3 linked regions of the Homo sapiens genome follow. The protein of the gene in region 1 interacts with the protein of each later gene in a biochemical or structural test. Each region holds a gene or a part of one and is shown in the gene's direction. Other genes may lie near its edges.

Region 1 (7,108 bases):
TCCCAGGCATGCGCTCCACTGTACAGCTGGCGCACAGAGAAGGAGCCACTGAGCGACCCCGTGGGCACCTGCTACCTCTCCACAGATAACTTCACCCGAATTCTGGAGTATGCACCCTGCCGCTCAGGTAGGGGCAAGAGGGGGCCTGTGCCCCATGTCTGCCTTCTCATATACTTGAAGTGTCTCACATACTTAGGGTTGACTCGCACCTACCATGTGCCCCCATGAGGTTCTAGGTTGCTTAAGATAAAGGCTAACCCAGTTCGTTAGCCTTTATGCTTACTGTCTGGTCCAGGAAGGCCCTTTCTCTGGTTCTCTCTCCCACCTCCTTCCCTATGCCCTCTCTTCTTTCCTGGATGACCCATCTATGCAGGGCTCATTTTCACCACCTTCTCCCCTCACAGATTTCAGCTGGGCAGCAGGACAGGGTTACTGCCAAGGAGGCTTCAGTGCCGAGTTCACCAAGGTGAGAGAGTGGTCTGGGAGAGAAGGGGCCGTGGGTGGTGGACATGGGGGGATTGGGACCAGATGTTGGACTCCCCTCCTTTCACCCACAGACTGGCCGTGTGGTTTTAGGTGGACCAGGAAGCTATTTCTGGCAAGGTAAGTCCTGTCTCTGCCATTCTTTTTTTTTTTTTTTTTTTTTTTTGAGACGAAGTCTCACTCTGTCACCCAGGCTGGAGTGCAGTGGCACAACCTCTGCTGCCCAGGTTCAAGCGATTCTCCTGCCTCAGCCTCCCAAGTAGCTGGGATTACAGGCGCCTGCCACCGCGCCTGGCTAATTTTTGTAATTTTAGTAGAGAAGGGGTTTCACCATCTTGGCCAGGCTGGTCTTGGACTCCTGACCTCGTGATCCACCCCTCTTGGCCTCTCAAAGTGCTGGGATTATAGGCATGAGCCGCCGCGCCCTGCCTGTTTCTGCCATTCTTTAAGTCCCCTGGCACATAGCCTCCCACCCTACTCCCAATTCTCCTCTTCCTTTCCTGAAGCTTACATGCCACCACCCTCCCCATGCTTCCCTTTCTTGAACCAGACTTCTGAAATACTACCCAGTCAGCCCCCAGAGTCCCAAGCCCCCTCTGCCACTTCCTCTCCATCTACTCCCTCTTCATACTCTCTCCAGGCCAGATCCTGTCTGCCACTCAGGAGCAGATTGCAGAATCTTATTACCCCGAGTACCTGATCAACCTGGTTCAGGGGCAGCTGCAGACTCGCCAGGCCAGTTCCATCTATGATGACAGCTACCTAGGTGAGCAAGCAAGTGGGGAAGGGATGGCAGAGGGAGAACCTCAAGTGCTCCTGTCCCCACTCACCCCCTCGCCTCCCCTCTCCTACTCAGGCATCCCCAGCACCCCTGCCATACTTGTCATGTGCCTGCTGACTATGAAGGCCCAGTAGGGGTGGGGAAGGGATTGGTGGATAGGCCAGAGCAGAGGGGTCCTCAAAGCAGGAATCCTAACATCCACCCACCCTGTCCCCCAGGATACTCTGTGGCTGTTGGTGAATTCAGTGGTGATGACACAGAAGGTGAGTGTGTCCCCAGGCTGGGGCCAAGGGAGGGGGATGGTTAGAGGCACAGGGCCAGAGAGCCCATGAACTTGGCCACTTACCATTATCTGCTTCCCTTTCCCCACCCTTAGGTCACAACTTTCTCTTCTCTTTGCAGACTTTGTTGCTGGTGTGCCCAAAGGGAACCTCACTTACGGCTATGTAAGACCCAGCCTGACCCCTCACTTCCTCTCCTCCCCTGCCTAATCACAAAGAACCGTGCATGGCAGTTTGCAAGGGCTCAAAAAGGTGGATCAGAACATGGGCTCTGGAGGCAGACTGGCATTCAAGTTCTGGCACTTACTCTGGCAGAATCATTCTGCTCTTTATTCATACTCTGCTTCCTGCTGAACCTCTCTGAGCCTTCTTCTTCTCTGTATACTGGGATAACAATCGTTCTGACCTCACGAGGCTCTGGCAAGGATGAAATGAGAAAATGCATGTGAAAGTACTCAGTGAATTGTTAGGCAATGTACAACTGGCAGATGTTATTATTAGACCAGGACAAGTGCTTTTTAAAAGATACAGATAAGAGTGCCATCGGATTTCATTCAATTAACAACATTTATTAAGGCAAGGTAAGAGATAAGATGAATAAGGTATCATACCCCATCTTATAAGATGCTTCTAATCAAGTATGTTAGATAAGACACACATACAATTATGATCTAAAGTGGAGCAACTATTCATTCTCTACTCAGTGCATCAGGCACTATCTATTCATGATTTCTATTCTTCACAACAAGCCTATGGGGTAGATATTATCATCTGTATTTTGCATATGAGAACACTGAGGTTCTAAGAGACCAAGTAAGTTGCTTAAGATCACCCAGTTAGTAAGTAGGTTTAAAATCAGGTCTCTCTTAATCCAAAATCAGCATTCTTTCTGCATTTTGGTAAACTTCAGCAAAGTGGATACAGTGGCATAGCAGTTTAGGGGAAAGAATAATCTCCTTTCTAGGAAAAGGATGGTAACAAGTTTGGGGAGTCAGGAAATAAAAATTTTAAATTTTTAAAAAGGAAGAGGACAGATGAGAGAAGGTTCTATGAAGGTTCAGCAGAGATGAGGCAGGAGGGCATCCTGTGCAGGAGCATGAATGAGGTGGAAGAAAAGGAAACAATTTCAGCCCAACTTAGCAGACTCATGAGCTGATTGAGGATGAGTAGAATATGGAAAGGTTGAGCAAAAACAGATAGGTTAGGGCCAGATTCTCCAGAGCTTTGGAGGACCAGCCAAGAAGTTGAGACTTTGGGCAGTGACTGCAGGGGGCCACTGGATTTCCAAGCCAGAGGTAGCCTCCTAGATCTGCTGGGAGAGCTGGAGGCAGGGACATTGTCAAGACATCTGTCCAGCAGTCCTGGGAAAGGGCTCACACCAGGATTCAAGAGGCCTGGTGGGGCCAGTCACTAAGGGAATATAGGGGAGAAATGGTGTTTGTGGTTCGGGGGACTGGAGGATGAGGATGACTTAGGTTTTGAACGTGATGGGTTTGAGGCACCAGCACACATTCAGTCATAATTATTATTGAGTGCCTACTACTCACCAAGCATGACTTTAGGTTCTGAGGAGAAAGCAAAGAACAAAATCAAGTTCCTGCCCCTATTGATCTTACATTCTAGTGGGTAGAGAGGGACAACGAACAGATAAATACAAAATCTGTCAGTGGTTGGTGATTGATAGGGAGAAAAATAGTGAAGCAGACATAGGGTGGAACTACCTGGCATAGAGGTGGGAATATGAGGGCAAAGCTGAAGAGGGAGCTAGGGACAGTGGTCTGCGTCTCTAAGGAATGCCTGCCCCTGGGTGTCCTGTACACATCTGTTCTTTAACCATGGGATATTCTGGGAGTCCAGGACCAATGGGCCTATCTCTTCATCTCCCAGGTCACCATCCTTAATGGCTCAGACATTCGATCCCTCTACAACTTCTCAGGGGAACAGGTAAGGATACCCCTCAACCCCACCCCAGCTTGGCCTCTGTCAACGAAGCCCCAGCCCTGACCTAATAATGTCAGCCCAACTTCCCAGCCCCTCTTGATCCTGTGGATTGAACCTTCTAGTTCTGACCCAGCGCTGCCCCTTTGTCCTCCCCAGATGGCCTCCTACTTTGGCTATGCAGTGGCCGCCACAGACGTCAATGGGGACGGGTGAGTGGTGGGAAATGAGCGCACTGTGATACCCTCCCAGAACCAAGAGGGAAGAGTGGGAATGGGACAGAAAATGCAAGGAGAGTTTCTCCAGGGCTTTTTCTCTAGACTCTCGCTCATACCTGCATTCCCCTTGCTCAGGGACAAGGAAAGAGCTGAGAGCTGATGATCAGAGACCTCAGGTCTTCTGACGTGATGGAATTCAGAGTGTCCGGGATTTCTAGCACTAGGATTGGGGTGGGGTGGCAAGACAGGGTATCGAGATGCCTGGGTTTGCCCTTCCCCTCAGGCTGGATGACTTGCTGGTGGGGGCACCCCTGCTCATGGATCGGACCCCTGACGGGCGGCCTCAGGAGGTGGGCAGGGTCTACGTCTACCTGCAGCACCCAGCCGGCATAGAGCCCACGCCCACCCTTACCCTCACTGGCCATGATGAGTTTGGCCGATTTGGCAGCTCCTTGACCCCCCTGGGGGACCTGGACCAGGATGGCTACAATGGTGAGTACCATGGGCTCAGAGAGTGAAAGAGGAGGCAGGGGCCCAAGTCAGAAGGGATTTGGGGAGAGGGCATCTGTCAGCTAAGATACCCAGACCTCCACGACTTCCCGAGGGGTTAAAATCCCACTGTCTGGGTCTTGGGATTTGAAGATTAGAATATAGGGACTGACAGATGGGAAAAAATAGGATCCTAGGTCCTGGGGTCTGGTAGTAGAGATTAGAGCCCATGGATTCCTGGCCTGCTGACTAGTGTGTGTTCTGTGTCTTCCAGATGTGGCCATCGGGGCTCCCTTTGGTGGGGAGACCCAGCAGGGAGTAGTGTTTGTATTTCCTGGGGGCCCAGGAGGGCTGGGCTCTAAGCCTTCCCAGGTTCTGCAGCCCCTGTGGGCAGCCAGCCACACCCCAGACTTCTTTGGCTCTGCCCTTCGAGGAGGCCGAGACCTGGATGGCAATGGATATCCTGGTGAGTTGTGCCTGAGGCCCCTTTTCACCTTAAAATTCCCTGGTCACTGACCCCTACTCTCTCTTCTGCACCTTTCCTTAAGTTCCTGGGTGCAGTTCTGGCTAATTCCAACAGAGGGCGCTGTCTTCTCACTTCAACCTCCCTGAGCGTTGAAACCAGGAGGGGTTAGGAAGAAAGGATCCTGATCTGGGGCTTGCTGTAAGAGGTGATTTCTTGACTTCTTACAGATCTGATTGTGGGGTCCTTTGGTGTGGACAAGGCTGTGGTATACAGGTATGAGCTCCAAAGGGAGATGAGGGGACAACCTGGGTGGACTGGAACTGGAAATTTCTCAACAGAGCTGAGGTTGGGAAAATCAATGCAGAGGACACACATTCTGGCGCTTGGGCATCAGTTTCCTGTGTCCAGGTTACAGAGGAGTCCTAATTCTATTGACCCCACATTCACTCTTGGCAGGGGCCGCCCCATCGTGTCCGCTAGTGCCTCCCTCACCATCTTCCCCGCCATGTTCAACCCAGAGGAGCGGAGCTGCAGCTTAGAGGGGAACCCTGTGGCCTGGTGAGCTGGTGCCCAGGAAATTGCAGAGACCTGAGCCTGGGAGTGGGCAGGGGCACCAAGTCTGCCTTAAAAAGGGGAAAATGGTGGTGTCCTAGTCTGGGTCTGGCTGGGAGATAGGTAGAGGATAGGATGTCTGTTCCAGTTGGATTCACCAGCTTTCTTCTTGGTCTCTCTCCAGCATCAACCTTAGCTTCTGCCTCAATGCTTCTGGAAAACACGTTGCTGACTCCATTGGTGAGGGAGACTGCCTGGATCTCTCAGGCCCTAGGACAGAGAATGAAGGGACTGGGGACCTGGGGACATTTCTTCTCTCTGAAAAGATGAGGAAAGACAGGCAGTTTCCCTTTATATGTCCCTGGCTTCAGGTTTCACAGTGGAACTTCAGCTGGACTGGCAGAAGCAGAAGGGAGGGGTACGGCGGGCACTGTTCCTGGCCTCCAGGCAGGCAACCCTGACCCAGACCCTGCTCATCCAGAATGGGGCTCGAGAGGATTGCAGAGAGATGAAGATCTACCTCAGGGTATGGCCCAGAGGGCGGGGTGTGGACTGGCCAGGGAGGGTGGCCACACAGAACTGAGGGCACCTCCTGAAGGGAAAAAGACTGGGGGACTCCAGTGAAGGGCTTGGGACTCTTGTAGGGGCTGAGAAAGGGAGACCTTCTGTCAGAGGAGCTGGGAAGCAGGCTGCCAGGGCCTCTGAAACAATGAGGATGGTCGGAATTGGGCCCTAAGCAGACAAAGGGAGATGAGAGAGGCTGAGGAGCAGGGCCACTAAGTCTCCAGAGTCCCCTGACTCCGTGAACTCTCTCCTCTGGCCCCAGAACGAGTCAGAATTTCGAGACAAACTCTCGCCGATTCACATCGCTCTCAACTTCTCCTTGGACCCCCAAGCCCCAGTGGACAGCCACGGCCTCAGGCCAGCCCTACATTATCAGAGCAAGAGCCGGATAGAGGACAAGGTGAGGACAGGGCAGGGAGAAGGGACCTGGGAAGACAGAGGCCTGGGTATTGGGGGGGCAGGGCCATGGAAAGAGAAGAGCCTACAGCCCAGGAATGGGTCTAAACTTCCCCTCTCAAGGCTGCCCTGCTCCCCAGGCTCAGATCTTGCTGGACTGTGGAGAAGACAACATCTGTGTGCCTGACCTGCAGCTGGAAGTGTTTGGGTAAGTAGGGCTGACGGTAAGCTAGGGAGCTCCAGGTGCACCTGGCACCTGAAAAAATCAGCTAGGGACATACTAGCTGTGTCGCCTTGGGAAGTTGCTGAGCTGCTCTGAGCTTTAACTCCTTTGTCTGTATAGTGGGAATAGTAGCATTTATTTCTCAGACTTTTTGGAAAGATTAAATGAAATAATCTACATAAAAAATCTAGCCTAGTGCCTGCCATAGAGTTAGAACTCAGTAAGCAGTGTCTATTGTTACTTTATTATTACTCTTTTTTTTTTTTTGAGACGGAGTCATGCCCTTGTCACCCAGGCTGGAGTGCAGTGGCGCAATCTCGGCTCACTGCAACCTCCGCCTCCCAGGTTCAAGCGATTCTCTGCCTCAGCGTCCCAAGTAGCTGGGATTACAGGTGCCTGCCACCATGCCGGGCTAATTTTTTTATTATTATTTTTAGTAGAGACAGGGTTTCATCATCTTGGCCAGGCTTGTCTTGAACTCCTGACCTCGTGATCCACCCGCCTCAGCCTCCCAAAGTGCTGGGATTACAGGTGTGAGCCACCACACCCGGCCTCGTATTACTACTCTTATAATGGTCCTTTGTCCTGGTTTGAGGATTAATTCACCAATGTCCCTTACCCTCTGTGTCCCTTCCAGGGAGCAGAACCATGTGTACCTGGGTGACAAGAATGCCCTGAACCTCACTTTCCATGCCCAGAATGTGGGTGAGGGTGGCG
Region 2 (6,277 bases), on another chromosome or scaffold:
GGGGCTCACCTGGGTTCAGGTGAGATGCAGGTTATAGAGAGGACACTAGGGAATCCTCCATTCCGTCCAGAGGGAACCAGAGGGGCTGATCAAACCAGCAGTCACAGGGGCCGTTGTGAGGTCAGTGGCCTTGGACGCAGGTCAGTCTTCCAGAGGGTCCTGGCTGCTTTTCCTCACATTCTTTACACTGTGAGCCCCTGGAAGCTCATGCTCATCCTGGGGGCCCCATGGAAGCCAGATGTACCCCCGACTGGATTCAGGCACCCAGCTCCTGCCCGGCTCTGTCAGCTCCTGTAGGGGCTGGAGTGTTGGTGGACTGAGTCCCAGAAGGACATGTGGGGCGGGGGAATCCCATTATCTGCCCTGGAAACATTCTGCCTGTGCTCCCAGGGGTCCCTAGGCCTGCTGCCCCCATAGGCCAGCACCCCCAAACTGCAGACACCCTCTGCAGGGCGGGTCAGCACGGGGCCTCCGTTCCCCTCCTATCCTTCCCTCAGGGTCTTGCCACCTCCACTCCCAGTGCTGGAGAACTCAGGGCTTCTCTGCCCCTGTTCTGTCTATGGAGTGAAGGGCTGAGACCCCTAAAACAAGGAAAGGCGAGTTTGGCCTCCTTGCGGGGTAGGGGGGGCTGTATGTATCTTCCACTCCTCCCTCATGGAGGTGCCCCTCATGGAGAGGCCAGGGGACCTTGAAGCCCTGAAATACAAGCTCAGCAGGGGAGACCCAGGACAGCATATGGGGCCTGGAGGTGTGGGCGGTGGGTGCTGCAGGCCCCAGCCTCGCCCTCGCTGGTCTCTGCCTGCAGGCGTGAACGATGGTGACATGCGGCTGGCCGATGGGGGCGCCACCAACCAGGGCCGCGTGGAGATCTTCTACAGAGGCCAGTGGGGCACTGTGTGTGACAACCTGTGGGACCTGACTGATGCCAGCGTCGTCTGCCGGGCCCTGGGCTTCGAGAACGCCACCCAGGCTCTGGGCAGAGCTGCCTTCGGGCAAGGTAGGGCCTGCTGTCCCCTTCCACTGAGGCTGAGACCCACAGCACAGCCAGCTCCCAGGAGGGGCAAATCCCCTAAGACGAAACAGTCAGGTTTCAAAGACATGCAAATTGGATTCCTATTAATTTAGCAAGAGCAAACACTTTTTTTTTTTTTTTTTTTTTTTTTTTTTTTTGAGATGGAGTCTCGCTCTGTTGCCCAGGCTGGAGTGCAGTGGCACAATCTCGGCTCACTGCAACCTCCGCCTCCTGAGTTCAAGTGATTCTCCTGTCTCAGCCTTCTGAGTAGCTGGGATTACAGGTACCTGCCACCATGCCCGGCTGATTTTTGTATTTTTTAGTAGAGACAGAGTTTCACCATGTTGGCCAGGCTGGTTTTTAAACTTCCGGTGTCAAGTGATCCGCCCGCCTCAGCCTCCCAAAGTGCTGGGATTACCACACCCGGCCTATGAGCAAACATTTTCAATGGTGCTGAAGGCCTGCGGATCAAGTTCTGATGGGACTGCTCCACCCACACTTGGCCAGTGATGGTGGCGGGTGCTTGGGCAGGTTCAAGAGCTCGGCTGGGCTCGTTCCCTCCGGCCCAGAAACTCCACTCCAGGGAGTTTATCCCATTGAAACAATTTCTCCTCAAAAGAAAAGTCTGCAGGAAGATTTCCACTGACACAGCAGTTGCGATTCTGGAAAAAAAAGAAACAATCCATAAACTATTTAGCAGCAGGGATAGTCACACAATTACAGTATGTGAACCTGATGTTGCAGGGATAGTCACACAATTACAATATGTGAACCTGATGTTGCAGGGATAGTCACACAATTACAGTATGTGAACCTGATGTTGCAGGGATAGTCACACAATTACAGTATGTGAAACTGATGTTGCAGGGATAGTCACACAATTACTATACATGAATGTGATGTCGCTGAAGCAGCCGGTAAGCTTTATAAGCATGAAGGCTAAGTTTATGGCCTGACATTGCAATCACAAATCCAGCCCATGCTGGAATATCCTCCGTGGTTCGCTGGTGAAGGACCTGTAAGCAGATGGACCCACACGGCCGGGGCGGAGAACAAAGGGCTGAGTCGCGCTGTGGGACTCCTGGGTGCAGTCGTCACGCCCCCAGCCCTGCCATCTGCTGTGTCCACAGGATCAGGCCCCATCATGCTGGATGAGGTCCAGTGCACGGGAACCGAGGCCTCACTGGCCGACTGCAAGTCCCTGGGCTGGCTGAAGAGCAACTGCAGGCACGAGAGAGACGCTGGTGTGGTCTGCACCAATGGTGAGCGGGGGCGCACCTCCCTGCGGAGGCCCCAGTGTGCCCTGGGGTCCCGTGGCCCCTGCCCCTCCCAGCACCACCCCCCCACGCACATGAAGCACACAAAGGTTCCTTCCACTACCGCCTGCCCACTCCGCATGGAGAGGCCCAGACGTCCCAAGAGCCCACCAGCTCCCAGTCCCACAGTCCCAGACTCCTCCCCAGCCCCTTCTGGAGAAACACCCAGAACCACCAAGTCTCCATGCAGAACCCGAGTGTGGGGCAGTGAGCCACAGTTTCAGTGAGCATGACACCTGGCTCCAGCCTGACCTGAAATGCCAGCGTCCGCTCAGAAATACACTTCACAGCACGCGACAGGCTCAAGCCCGTCCTGGCGGAGGGAGTCCCGGCTACTCGCAGCCTCAGCCTGCTTCCCCCAACCTGGCCCAGTTTGGAGGGAACCCAGGCTGCTCTGCAGGTTGGAGCCTCTGGATCTGAGTTTCTTGTTTTTCTTTCATGCCGAGGTGGCTCTTCCTGGGCTTGCACGTGACAACCTGGGCATTTCCTGCCCACTGCCCTTTGCCAGGAGTTGGAGGCCCCTAAGGCAGGACGGGTCGAATCCCAGGGAGCCCCTGTGCCCACATGGGATGGACAAGTGGCTGGAGCTGAGCCTGGACTCACAGTGGGGGAAGCCCAGGAGACGCCATGGGGCTGTCGGGGGCCAGGGGAGGCGGCGGGGAGCACACGGGGCCATGGGCGCACGGCCAAAGCTCCTGGGGCAGGAGAGCTGTGGTAAGGCGTGCAGGTGGGAGGGAGCTGGGGGTCCTGCGGTGGCTCAGGTTTTAGGAGGCCCAGGGCAAGCCCACCTGGTTGAAAGGTCACAGTTACTTCAAAACTACTATATTTGTGGCGAAGAAAAACCTATGGGATTTCATTTTGAGTTAGGCTTTGAGAGGGGCTCAAAGAAGGGGAGAGGGTGCACCACACTGACCCCCGAGCCGGGAGCCTCCCATGACTTCTGCAGGCCTTCTCCCCGACAGGAAGCTGCTCGAGGACCCCCGGAGTTCTAAAATGGGGTTGCCACAGGACCCTAACTTTTCAGGCCATCTAAGCAGGCAGTGGTTTTGGTGTTAGTGGTGATTGGTGACCAAGGCTGGGGAGTGGGGGCTCCGGAGTCAGTACCACCAAGTCTCCATGCGGAGCTGCTGCCTGAGTCGGGGGAGCAGCACAGAGCAGAGGGCCTAAAGCGGGGGCCTGGACAGGCTTGGCCAGGTCCTAGCTGCTCTTGTTCCCCAGGGCTGGAAGGGGCGGGGCCTCAGGGTCCAGGAATCCGACACTTCCGGTCTCTCTTGTCCCTCGTCTTCCCAGGAGCCTTCCAGAGTGAATGAGGCAGCCACAAATCCCTCACTTTCAGATGAAGACACTGACCCCAGAGAGTGGCAGTGCCCCGGCTCCTAACGCAGCCCACTTCCCTCCCGCCCCTTCTTAGAAACCAGGAGCACCCACACCCTGGACCTCTCCAGGGAGCTCTCGGAGGCCCTTGGCCAGATCTTTGACAGCCAGCGGGGCTGCGACCTGTCCATCAGCGTGAATGTGCAGGGCGAGGACGCCCTGGGCTTCTGTGGCCACACGGTCATCCTGACTGCCAACCTGGAGGCCCAGGCCCTGTGGAAGGAGCCGGGCAGCAATGTCACCATGAGTGTGGATGCTGAGTGTGTGCCCATGGTCAGGGACCTTCTCAGGTGAGCCGTCTCGTCCTCAGGCTCTGGGGCCGCCAGGGGCTTTGTCCTCCTCCCCTCTTCAAAAGCACAGCCCCCCACACACACACCTGCACATACTCATGCATGCACATGTACACACGCAGTCACACATGCACTCACGCAGTTGCACACACACGCATGCTCACTCCCACACTGTGTGCACTCAGGTGGCTGTGTTGGACAGTTGGGCCCAGGGCTCCCCTGCTGTCCTGTGGGGCCGGCATCTGCTCTCCTTCTTTCTCCCCAGGTACTTCTACTCCCGAAGGATTGACATCACCCTGTCGTCAGTCAAGTGCTTCCACAAGCTGGCCTCTGCCTATGGGGCCAGGCAGCTGCAGGGCTACTGCGCAAGCCTCTTTGCCATCCTCCTCCCCCAGGACCCCTCGTTCCAGATGCCCCTGGACCTGTATGCCTATGCAGTGGCCACAGGGGACGCCCTGCTGGAGAAGCTCTGCCTACAGTTCCTGGCCTGGAACTTCGAGGCCTTGACGCAGGCCGAGGCCTGGCCCAGTGTCCCCACAGACCTGCTCCAACTGCTGCTGCCCAGGAGCGACCTGGCGGTGCCCAGCGAGCTGGCCCTACTGAAGGCCGTGGACACCTGGAGCTGGGGGGAGCGTGCCTCCCATGAGGAGGTGGAGGGCTTGGTGGAGAAGATCCGCTTCCCCATGATGCTCCCTGAGGAGCTCTTTGAGCTGCAGTTCAACCTGTCCCTGTACTGGAGCCACGAGGCCCTGTTCCAGAAGAAGACTCTGCAGGCCCTGGAATTCCACACTGTGCCCTTCCAGTTGCTGGCCCGGTACAAAGGCCTGAACCTCACCGAGGATACCTACAAGCCCCGGATTTACACCTCGCCCACCTGGAGTGCCTTTGTGACAGACAGTTCCTGGAGTGCACGGAAGTCACAACTGGTCTATCAGTCCAGACGGGGGCCTTTGGTCAAATATTCTTCTGATTACTTCCAAGCCCCCTCTGACTACAGATACTACCCCTACCAGTCCTTCCAGACTCCACAACACCCCAGCTTCCTCTTCCAGGACAAGAGGGTGTCCTGGTCCCTGGTCTACCTCCCCACCATCCAGAGCTGCTGGAACTACGGCTTCTCCTGCTCCTCGGACGAGCTCCCTGTCCTGGGCCTCACCAAGTCTGGCGGCTCAGATCGCACCATTGCCTACGAAAACAAAGCCCTGATGCTCTGCGAAGGGCTCTTCGTGGCAGACGTCACCGATTTCGAGGGCTGGAAGGCTGCGATTCCCAGTGCCCTGGACACCAACAGCTCGAAGAGCACCTCCTCCTTCCCCTGCCCGGCAGGGCACTTCAACGGCTTCCGCACGGTCATCCGCCCCTTCTACCTGACCAACTCCTCAGGTGTGGACTAGACGGCGTGGCCCAAGGGTGGTGAGAACCGGAGAACCCCAGGACGCCCTCACTGCAGGCTCCCCTCCTCGGCTTCCTTCCTCTCTGCAATGACCTTCAACAACCGGCCACCAGATGTCGCCCTACTCACCTGAGCGCTCAGCTTCAAGAAATTACTGGAAGGCTTCCACTAGGGTCCACCAGGAGTTCTCCCACCACCTCACCAGTTTCCAGGTGGTAAGCACCAGGACGCCCTCGAGGTTGCTCTGGGATCCCCCCACAGCCCCTGGTCAGTCTGCCCTTGTCACTGGTCTGAGGTCATTAAAATTACATTGAGGTTCCTACATTTGTTTGTACAGAAAGTGTTGTTGGGTCCACACCGTGTTTAGACATCAGGTGTGCCAGGCTCTGGGGGACAGGTCATGAGGCAGAGTCCCTGTCCTTGTGAAGCTACAGGCTAACGGGGAAGACAGGGAACAGGAAGCACACCTCCCAGCCCGGAGCAATGACACAGTGGGACACGAGCAGGAGGGTGCGTGCCACTGCATGCGTGCACGTGGGTGTGTGATTGCATGTGCACAGGCGTGTGTGTGCTCATGAAAGTCTGGCTGTGACGGGTGCCCTCACCCCTTATCTGGGTAGGTGTGCTCTTAAAATTTTATTTACTTTTGAGACAGAATCTTGTTCTGTCGCCCAGGCTGGAGCTCAGTGGTGTGATCTTGGCTCACTGCAACCTCCACCTCCCGGTTTCAAGTGCTTCTCCCGCCTCAGCCTCCTGAGTAGCTGGGACTACAGGCACCTGCCATCGTACCTGGCTAACTTTTGTATTTTTGTAGAGACAGGGTTTCACCATGTGGGCCAGGCTGGTCTTGAACTCTTGACCTCAGGGGATCCACCCACCTCAGCCTCCCAAA
Region 3 (7,108 bases), on another chromosome or scaffold:
TTCAAGCAACCCATCCACCTTGGCCTCCCAAGTGCTGGGATTACAAGTGTGAGCCACTGCACCCGGCCTTTCGAGGCAATTTTCTTTTGGGGTCTGTCTCCCTCCCCCAATTGTGGGCATGGCTTGTTCTTATTTTCCGCAGGAACTTCCATAGTACTTCTGTGGACACAGGAGGATTGGAAAGATGTTGGTGGGTGTATGAAGGGGACGTGAGGACGCAGGACCCACGTGTTGATGGCAGCAGAGGGGACACCGAGGAGAGAGAACAAGGGAGGACCGTGCCACAGAAGCCGTGGCGTCTCTGCCTGGGGCTGGCGTGGTTGGAGTCTGTGGAGAGTGCCGCCCCTCCGGCCAGCCCTTGGCCCTGGCACATGCTGGTGACACCAGGTTCTCCAGCAAGCCCCCTTCACTGTCTGCTCCCCTCCGAGAGCAGCAGCAGCCGGTCCGGCCTCTGATGGTTTTCCAGGGGCGGTTGTGACTGTCGAAGTCTGACCGTAGCCCATCCTCTTTGGATCGTCTCCCGCGACCTTGGTTTTCCGCCCACCCGGTTCTTTTCCGTCCCCACTCTGGCGGGTGCGCTCGGGATTGTTTTTGCAGGGGGGAAGTGACATCATATGGTGTCCTGGGCTGGAGGGGTGGGGGTGGGGACCCTGCAGTTGCGTGTGCTTTGAATTCAGCCGACGGTTGTACATTCCAGTAGCCGGCATCTGGCGGTGAATTCATCAGCCAGTGTATCACCCTTGATCTCAAACCCAGATGTTGTGTTCACAGCAGAAGGGAAAGAAGGAAAAACGAAATCTGAGACGCCCAGGGAGAGGCCGTGGTTTCTGGGCTCAGGGCAGTTAGAACGAGAGTCTTTATAAAGACTCCCCCTCTCGCAGCTGCCTCTGGCTCCTTGGGGAAGGGGCAGAGGAGCAGAGCAGCCCCTCTCGGGGGCATGGACAGGAGATGGGCTGACACCCACCCCAGTGCCTAACACCAGGCCCAGCACCCAGTAGGTGTTCAGTAAACGTGTCTGTGCCACAATTTTCATTTCTTCCCAGATTCCTTATGTCTCTTCGCTTTCCCCAGCCCTGTTCTTCACATGGCCTGGGACTCGGAGAGGCCCTCCCTCTTTTGAAGTGGCCTGCTTTCCCCTACAGAACTGGTGGTCCATCCTGGAGCTCAGAGTGCGGACCATTGCCATTGGCATGGAAATGTATTCCGGAGAGCTCTCTCTCCCTCCTCCTCTGTCCACCACTGGGCATTGGAAACTCTCCTTCTCTGTGTTCCTATCCATCGTCTGTCATCTTGCCTGGATTGGATGCTCCTCCCAGGCAAGGCCTGCTGTATGCAGGATTCACCCTGTACCCTCTCTTCACCTGCTGTCACCTCTGGGCAACAACCCCCGACAGGTACCCGCTGCTCTGAGCAGGTCAGCGGTGCAGATCCCGCTATGCCAACTGGTGTGCACCGATCAGAGCTGTCAGCTGGCCCCTCTCCTTCATGTCTGCGGCGTGCTGGTGCTTTGGGGAAGGTTGCCGTGGAACTGGTCCTTCTTTGCCTCTCTTGATTCCCATTTTCCTTCTTTCATGTAATTTCTCATTTTGCAAAGTGGGGGAGGAGGTGCCCACCCCCAATTTAAAGGGACCCTGAAGAATCTGAATTCTGTTCCCCAGGGGCAGACTAAAGCAGCCCAGGGGAGATGGAGATGCCCTCAGGCTCTGCTCCTCCAGGCCCCTCACCCCCACTTCCCTGCCCCTCACCCCCACTTCCCTGCAGGCATCTGGCGGCCTCCTCGCCAGTTCACTTTCTAGTCCTAACCCCACGTGGCTACCCTGGACCCTTGATTTGACCAGCCTCCTCTTTTCTGACACTTTAAAGAAGGAAAGTGTGTAATCTGCAGCCCCCAGGCAAAGCTAGCACGCTGGGAAGCTGCATCAAATCGAGAGTCTGTGGCCTGCTGACCAGGACCGGGTCTGTGTACCTGAGTGGCATGATGCCACCGTCCCAATCCCTCACCCACGGGAGCGGGAGAATTCGCCCTGCTTGTCTATGCGATGCTCGTGGTCCTGAACTGTACACGCATTAGTTCCCGGGCACCGCAGCCTCCACACCAGCCCCTCTAACAGTCACCACGACCTTGTGAAGTGTCAAGACTGTTGTCATCGTCTCTGTCTTAGGTGTGAACAACTGTGGCTCAGTGAAGTCAAGGAGCTTCTCAAAGATCACGCAGCCATCCAGGGGTGAATGCAGGATCTCTGTCTCTTGCTGCCTCCTTCAAATAAGTGCCCAGCTGCCACCTGGGAGCCTTAGGCGTTTTTGTAAGAGAACAGCATGTGAACCTCAATGCCCATGGTAGGATGCAACATTTTGGCCGTTTTGAAGTAATCTTTGCTTATTTTCTGAACTCCAGTGACATGCTTGTTGAGTGCCTATTGTGCGTTAAGCATTGTGCGGCTTAGTGGACCATTGAAAGGCAGCTCCAAGGCCGGGCGCGGTAGCTCATGCCTGTAATCCCAGCACGTTGGGAGGCCGAGGCAGGCGGATCACGAGGTCAGGAGTTCAAGACCATCCTGGCCAGCATGGTGAAACCCCGTCTCTACTAAAATAAATACAAAAAATTAGCCGGGCATGGTGGCGCGTGCCTGTAATCCCAGCTACTTGGGAGGCTGAGGCAGGAGAATTGCTTGAACCCAGGAGGCGGAGGTTGCAGTGGGCCAAGATTGCACCATTGCACTCCAGCCTGGATGACAGAGCTAGACTCCATCTCAAAAAAAAAAAAAAGAAAGAAAGAAAAGAAAAGCAGCTCCAGAAATTTCCAAAATAACATACAGAATTCAGCAGACTGTAATAAAGGCCGGCTTGCTGCTCCTACTGGAACTGTTGATTCCTTTGGATTCTGCTGGCTTGCTTTTTTTCCTTTTCTTTCTTTTCTTTTTTTAAAAGACGGAGTCTCACTCTGTTGCCCAGGCTGGAGTGCAGTGGCATGATCTCAGCTCACTGCAACTTTCACCTCCTGGGTTCAAGCGATTCTCCTGCCTCAGCCTCCCAAGTGGCTGGGATTTTTGTATTTTTTGTAGAGATGGGGTTTCACCATGTTGGCTAGGCTGGTCTCAAACTCCTGACCTCAAGTGATCCGCCCGCCTCGGCCTCCCGAAGTGCTGGGATTATAGGAGTGAGCCACCGTGCCTGGCCCTGGTTTGCTTGTGAGCTGGTGACTCTGCTACATGAAGAGCAAACTTTGACCAAGTTAATCTGGCACATTGACTAATTTGCATAAACATTTTTGGTGCAGCATTGTCGTAAGGTATATAGATTAGGCAGGGAGCAAGAGAGCCAAGGACAAACTGCACCTGGGCCACCAGCCCAAAGTTGTCAGCGTCATCTCAGCTCCATCTGGCAAAGAGTTAGTGAGCACCAACTGTTCTGCAGTCAGAATCTAGCCTCAACCTGTTAGGACCTCCCAGGGCCCTGAGCAGACAGGTGTGCAGGAACTGACAGCAGGATGGAAAAGAGATGGGGAATATACCAAGTGCTGCAGAAGGACAGGATTTCCCAGAGGAAGACAGAAAAGGGCTATTTTAGCTGGGTCTTGAAGAATGAAGAAAAGTTCTCCAGGCAGAGAGGGGAGATGGCATTTGGGGCGGAAGAAACTTGCCTGTTCAGGCTGGGTGTGGTGGCTCACACCTGTAATCCCAGCACTTTGGGAGGCCAAAGTGGGCGGATCACTTGAGGTCAGGAGTTCGAGACCAGCCTGGCCAACATGCTAAAACCCTGTCTCTACTAAAAATACCAAAAAAAAAAAAAATTAGCCTGGCAAGGTGGCAGTTACCTGTAACCCCAGCTACTCAGGAGGCTGAGGCAGGAGAATTGCTTGAACCTGGGAGGTGGAGGTTGCAGTGAGCTGAGATCAAGCCATTGCACTCCAGCCTGGGTGACAAAAGTGAAACTCCGTCTCAAAAAAATATATATGGTAATTAGCCAGGCATGGTGGTGCCCACCTGTAATCCCAGCTACCTGGGAAGCTAAGGCAGGAGAGTCATTTGAACCTGGGAGATGGCTGAGATTGCGCCACTGCACTCCAGCCTAGCAGGGGTGGGGATGACAGAGCAAGACTCTGTCTAAAAAAAAAAGAAAGAAAGAAACTTGTCTGTTCAGAGGTGTGGATGCACCTGGGCGTGTTCAGGGCAGACAAGTATTATGAAGTGGTAGAATAGTGGGAGCATGGGTGGGGGGTGTTGGGCACAGCAGCTGAGGCCCCTGGCTGACTTCAGGTTGCAAAGGCGCTCATATTTTAGGGGAGGGCAGGGGGCAGCCAAGGATGATGTTTGAGCAGAAACGAACGTGAATAAAAAAAGACAGCTGGTTGCGGTGGATGAGAGGATGGTTAGGAGGGCACTGGAAATAGGGGGCCGTCAGGGCAAAGCCGTCTGTTCTGGAGTGGCCTGCCGGGAGACATTTCCTAGATGTGGCTTTTCAGGATGAGGCATGGATTAGCCTGGGAAACAGGAACCTGTGGCCTTGGCCAGTCATGACTCAGCTCCAACAGAAGAAGAAAGAAGAAAGGGGTTTGTGCCCAGGCGAGGCAGTGGGGCTGTGGTGTGGGACTCTGATGCCAGCCTGGGATCCAGAGAGCATTGGTGGGGCCCAGGGGGATGGACACAGATGGAGCACCCACACGCCTGAGCCTCCTTGCCCCTGTGGGAAGAGACAGCCCTGCCTAAGGGGTTCTAAGAGATTTGAGCCGACCACGTGGGGTGGGGCTGGGGCTGGGGCTAGGAGGCTGCCTGGAGCCTGGCGTGGTCTGCTCCTTACCTCTCTGTTTTGCTCATATCCACCGTAACATAACACTTACCCAGAGTGACCCTGAAGAGCTGAGTTTGGGAGGGCAAAGCTTTTAAAGCCATTAAAACAGACCATGTCACCAACTAATGGCCTTGAAATTAAGAAAGGGAGGGCTCTACCCAACCCTGCCCAAGTGACAGCATGAACTACTGATCTGCTTGTCCTCAGGTTACCAGGAGTGGAACAGAATCCTGGCTTAATTGCTAGGAGAAAGCCCTGTGTTGCATGGCCTGTCAGCAACCTCAGGCTCCAGAATATTCTGGAATTGCCCCAGCCCAGCCTCTTCCCCAACTCCTTTCTGTTTGGTTGGGGCTTAGTTGGGATCCTCTTTCCTTCTGTTTGTCCTTCCTCAGCATCTGTCCCTTGGGTCTGCCAGCTGTGCCTGCCGATGTCTCCTTTGGGTGAAACTTCCTGCCCCTGCCCCTGTTGTGCCCCTGATAGACTCTGTGTTACTGTAAAGAATCACCCAGGCTGGGCGCAGTGGCTCACGCCTGTAATCTCAGCACTTTGGGAGGCCGAAGCAGGTGGATCATTTGAAGTCAGGAGTTCGAGAACAGCCTGGCCAACATGATGAAACCCTGTCTCTACTAAAAATACAAAAATTAAGGTTGGGCACTGTAGCTCATGCCTATAATCCCAGCACTTTGGGAGGCTGAGGCAGGTGGATCACCTGAGGTCAGGAGCTCAAGACCAGCCTGGCCAACATGGCGAAACGCTTTCTCTACTAAAAATACAAAAATTAGCTGGGTGTGGTGGCAGCTGCCTATAATCAGAGCTACTTGAGAAGCTGAGGCAGGAGAATTTCTTGAACCCAGGAGGCAGAAGTTGCAGTGAGCCAAGATCATGCCACTGCACTCTAGCCTGGACGACAGAGTGAGACTCCGTCTGAAAAAAAAAAAAAATTAACCGGGCGTGGTGACAGACGCCTGTAATCCCAGCTACTTGAGAGGCTGAGGCAGGAGAATCACTTGAACCTGGGAGATAGAGGTTGCAGTGAGCCAAAACGGTGCCACTGCACTCCAGCCTGGGCAACAGCGCGAGACTCCATCTCAATAACAACAACAACAAAAATTACTCATAGAACATTTTCCAGGTCAGGAAAGATGAGAAGAGCTGGATAGACCTTTCCAGATGTAAGACCCCCAAAGCTAAATATGCCGGGTACGTTTAAGGCCCCTTTAAGGTGGATAACTCCCCCTCTGCCCTCAGCCCAGAAAAGCTTGTTTCCAATAGGCCGTGGCTGGAGGGTGGGGAAATGTCCCATCCTTCGCGGAATGTGTGGGATTGTGGGTCAGTTCCATGGGGTACCTGCTTGCCCCAGCCACCAGTGAGTACCCACTGGAGAGAAGGAAAAAAAAAGCCAAAAGCACTCAAGCATGATATCAACAGATGAGCTTCAGTCAAATCAATGACTGCCTCCCACTGTTACAGAAACTGCCTTGGTCACAAGGGACTCTGGGCTTCTGGCTTGGGCCCCTGTCAACAAAGAAGGGATTCTTGTTGAAGAATCGTGGAAGGAGGAGGAGGAGGCTGGGCATCATCTCTCAGCCTGGAGGAGGAGACGCCATGCCGGGGGCTGGGATCACCATGCCCCTTGCCCGTCTCGCACCTTGCTGCTGTCTGTAACCCCCCAGCACCTCCCGCAGGCCTGGACGTCTTATCCCTCTCCTTAGCCCCAGGAGCGTGTTTCAGGAACTCTCCTCACCTCTGTGTCTTGTGTTTTGCAGTGATCAGGGCCAAAGCGGTCAGTGAGAAGGAAGTGGACTCTGGAAACGACATTTATGGCAACCCTATCAAGAGGATCCAGTATGAGATCAAGCAGATAAAGGTAATAGTGGCTGCCGGCATCCCGGGCTGCACTGTGGGCACAGCTGTGGGGTGTTGGGGTTGGCAGAGAGCCTGGGTCCCTGGAACACGATCTGGCCACCTGTGGACTAGAGCAGAGGATGAGGTCATCAAGCTGCAAATAGATCCGATTTCCCTTAATCCTCGAATGCCTGAAAAGTTGTGTGGAGATGACATGCTCCCCACAAATTCAATTCCTTCAGAAACCTGTCCGGGCGTTGCGGCTCACACCTGTAATCCCAGCACTTCGGGAGGCCGAGGTGGGCGGATCACTTGAGCTCAGGAGTTCAAGACCAGTCTGGGCAACATGGTGAAAATCCATCTCTACAAAAAACCAGCCAGGCATGGTAGCGCCCACCTGTGGTCCCAGCTATTCGGGAGGCTGAGGTGGGAGAATCGCTTAAGCCCAGGAGGCAGAGGTTGCAGTGAGACATCT

Evidence for each region.
Region 2: the proteins of ITGA5 (region 1) and LGALS3BP form a complex in vitro, tested with the Homo sapiens proteins (one study listed by BioGRID).
Region 3: the proteins of ITGA5 (region 1) and TIMP2 form a complex in vitro, tested with the Homo sapiens proteins (one study listed by BioGRID).

What each region holds. Positions count from the first base shown.
Region 1 is NC_000012.12:54,402,251-54,409,358, reverse strand, and holds part of ITGA5 (integrin alpha-5 precursor), read left to right. Parts: intron 1-6; coding exon 7-127; intron 128-404; coding exon 405-466; intron 467-557; coding exon 558-603; intron 604-1,123; coding exon 1,124-1,249; intron 1,250-1,482; coding exon 1,483-1,527; intron 1,528-1,666; coding exon 1,667-1,710; intron 1,711-1,852; exon of another isoform or gene 1,853-1,962; intron 1,963-3,432; coding exon 3,433-3,489; intron 3,490-3,642; coding exon 3,643-3,695; intron 3,696-3,984; coding exon 3,985-4,193; intron 4,194-4,464; coding exon 4,465-4,656; intron 4,657-4,785; exon of another isoform or gene 4,786-4,861; intron 4,862-4,883; coding exon 4,884-4,929; intron 4,930-5,112; coding exon 5,113-5,214; intron 5,215-5,392; coding exon 5,393-5,448; intron 5,449-5,579; coding exon 5,580-5,734; intron 5,735-6,034; coding exon 6,035-6,172; intron 6,173-6,308; coding exon 6,309-6,376; intron 6,377-7,028; coding exon 7,029-7,108.
Region 2 is NC_000017.11:78,970,685-78,976,961, reverse strand, and holds the end of LGALS3BP (galectin-3-binding protein precursor), read left to right. Parts: intron 1-805; coding exon 806-997; intron 998-2,142; coding exon 2,143-2,274; intron 2,275-3,739; coding exon 3,740-3,992; intron 3,993-4,257; coding exon 4,258-5,386; 3' UTR 5,387-5,707; downstream 5,708-6,277.
Region 3 is NC_000017.11:78,873,366-78,880,473, reverse strand, and holds part of TIMP2 (metalloproteinase inhibitor 2 precursor), read left to right. Parts: intron 1-6,554; coding exon 6,555-6,655; intron 6,656-7,108. UniProt on the Homo sapiens protein: Complexes with metalloproteinases (such as collagenases) and irreversibly inactivates them by binding to their catalytic zinc cofactor. Known to act on MMP-1, MMP-2, MMP-3, MMP-7, MMP-8, MMP-9, MMP-10, MMP-13, MMP-14, MMP-15, MMP-16 and MMP-19.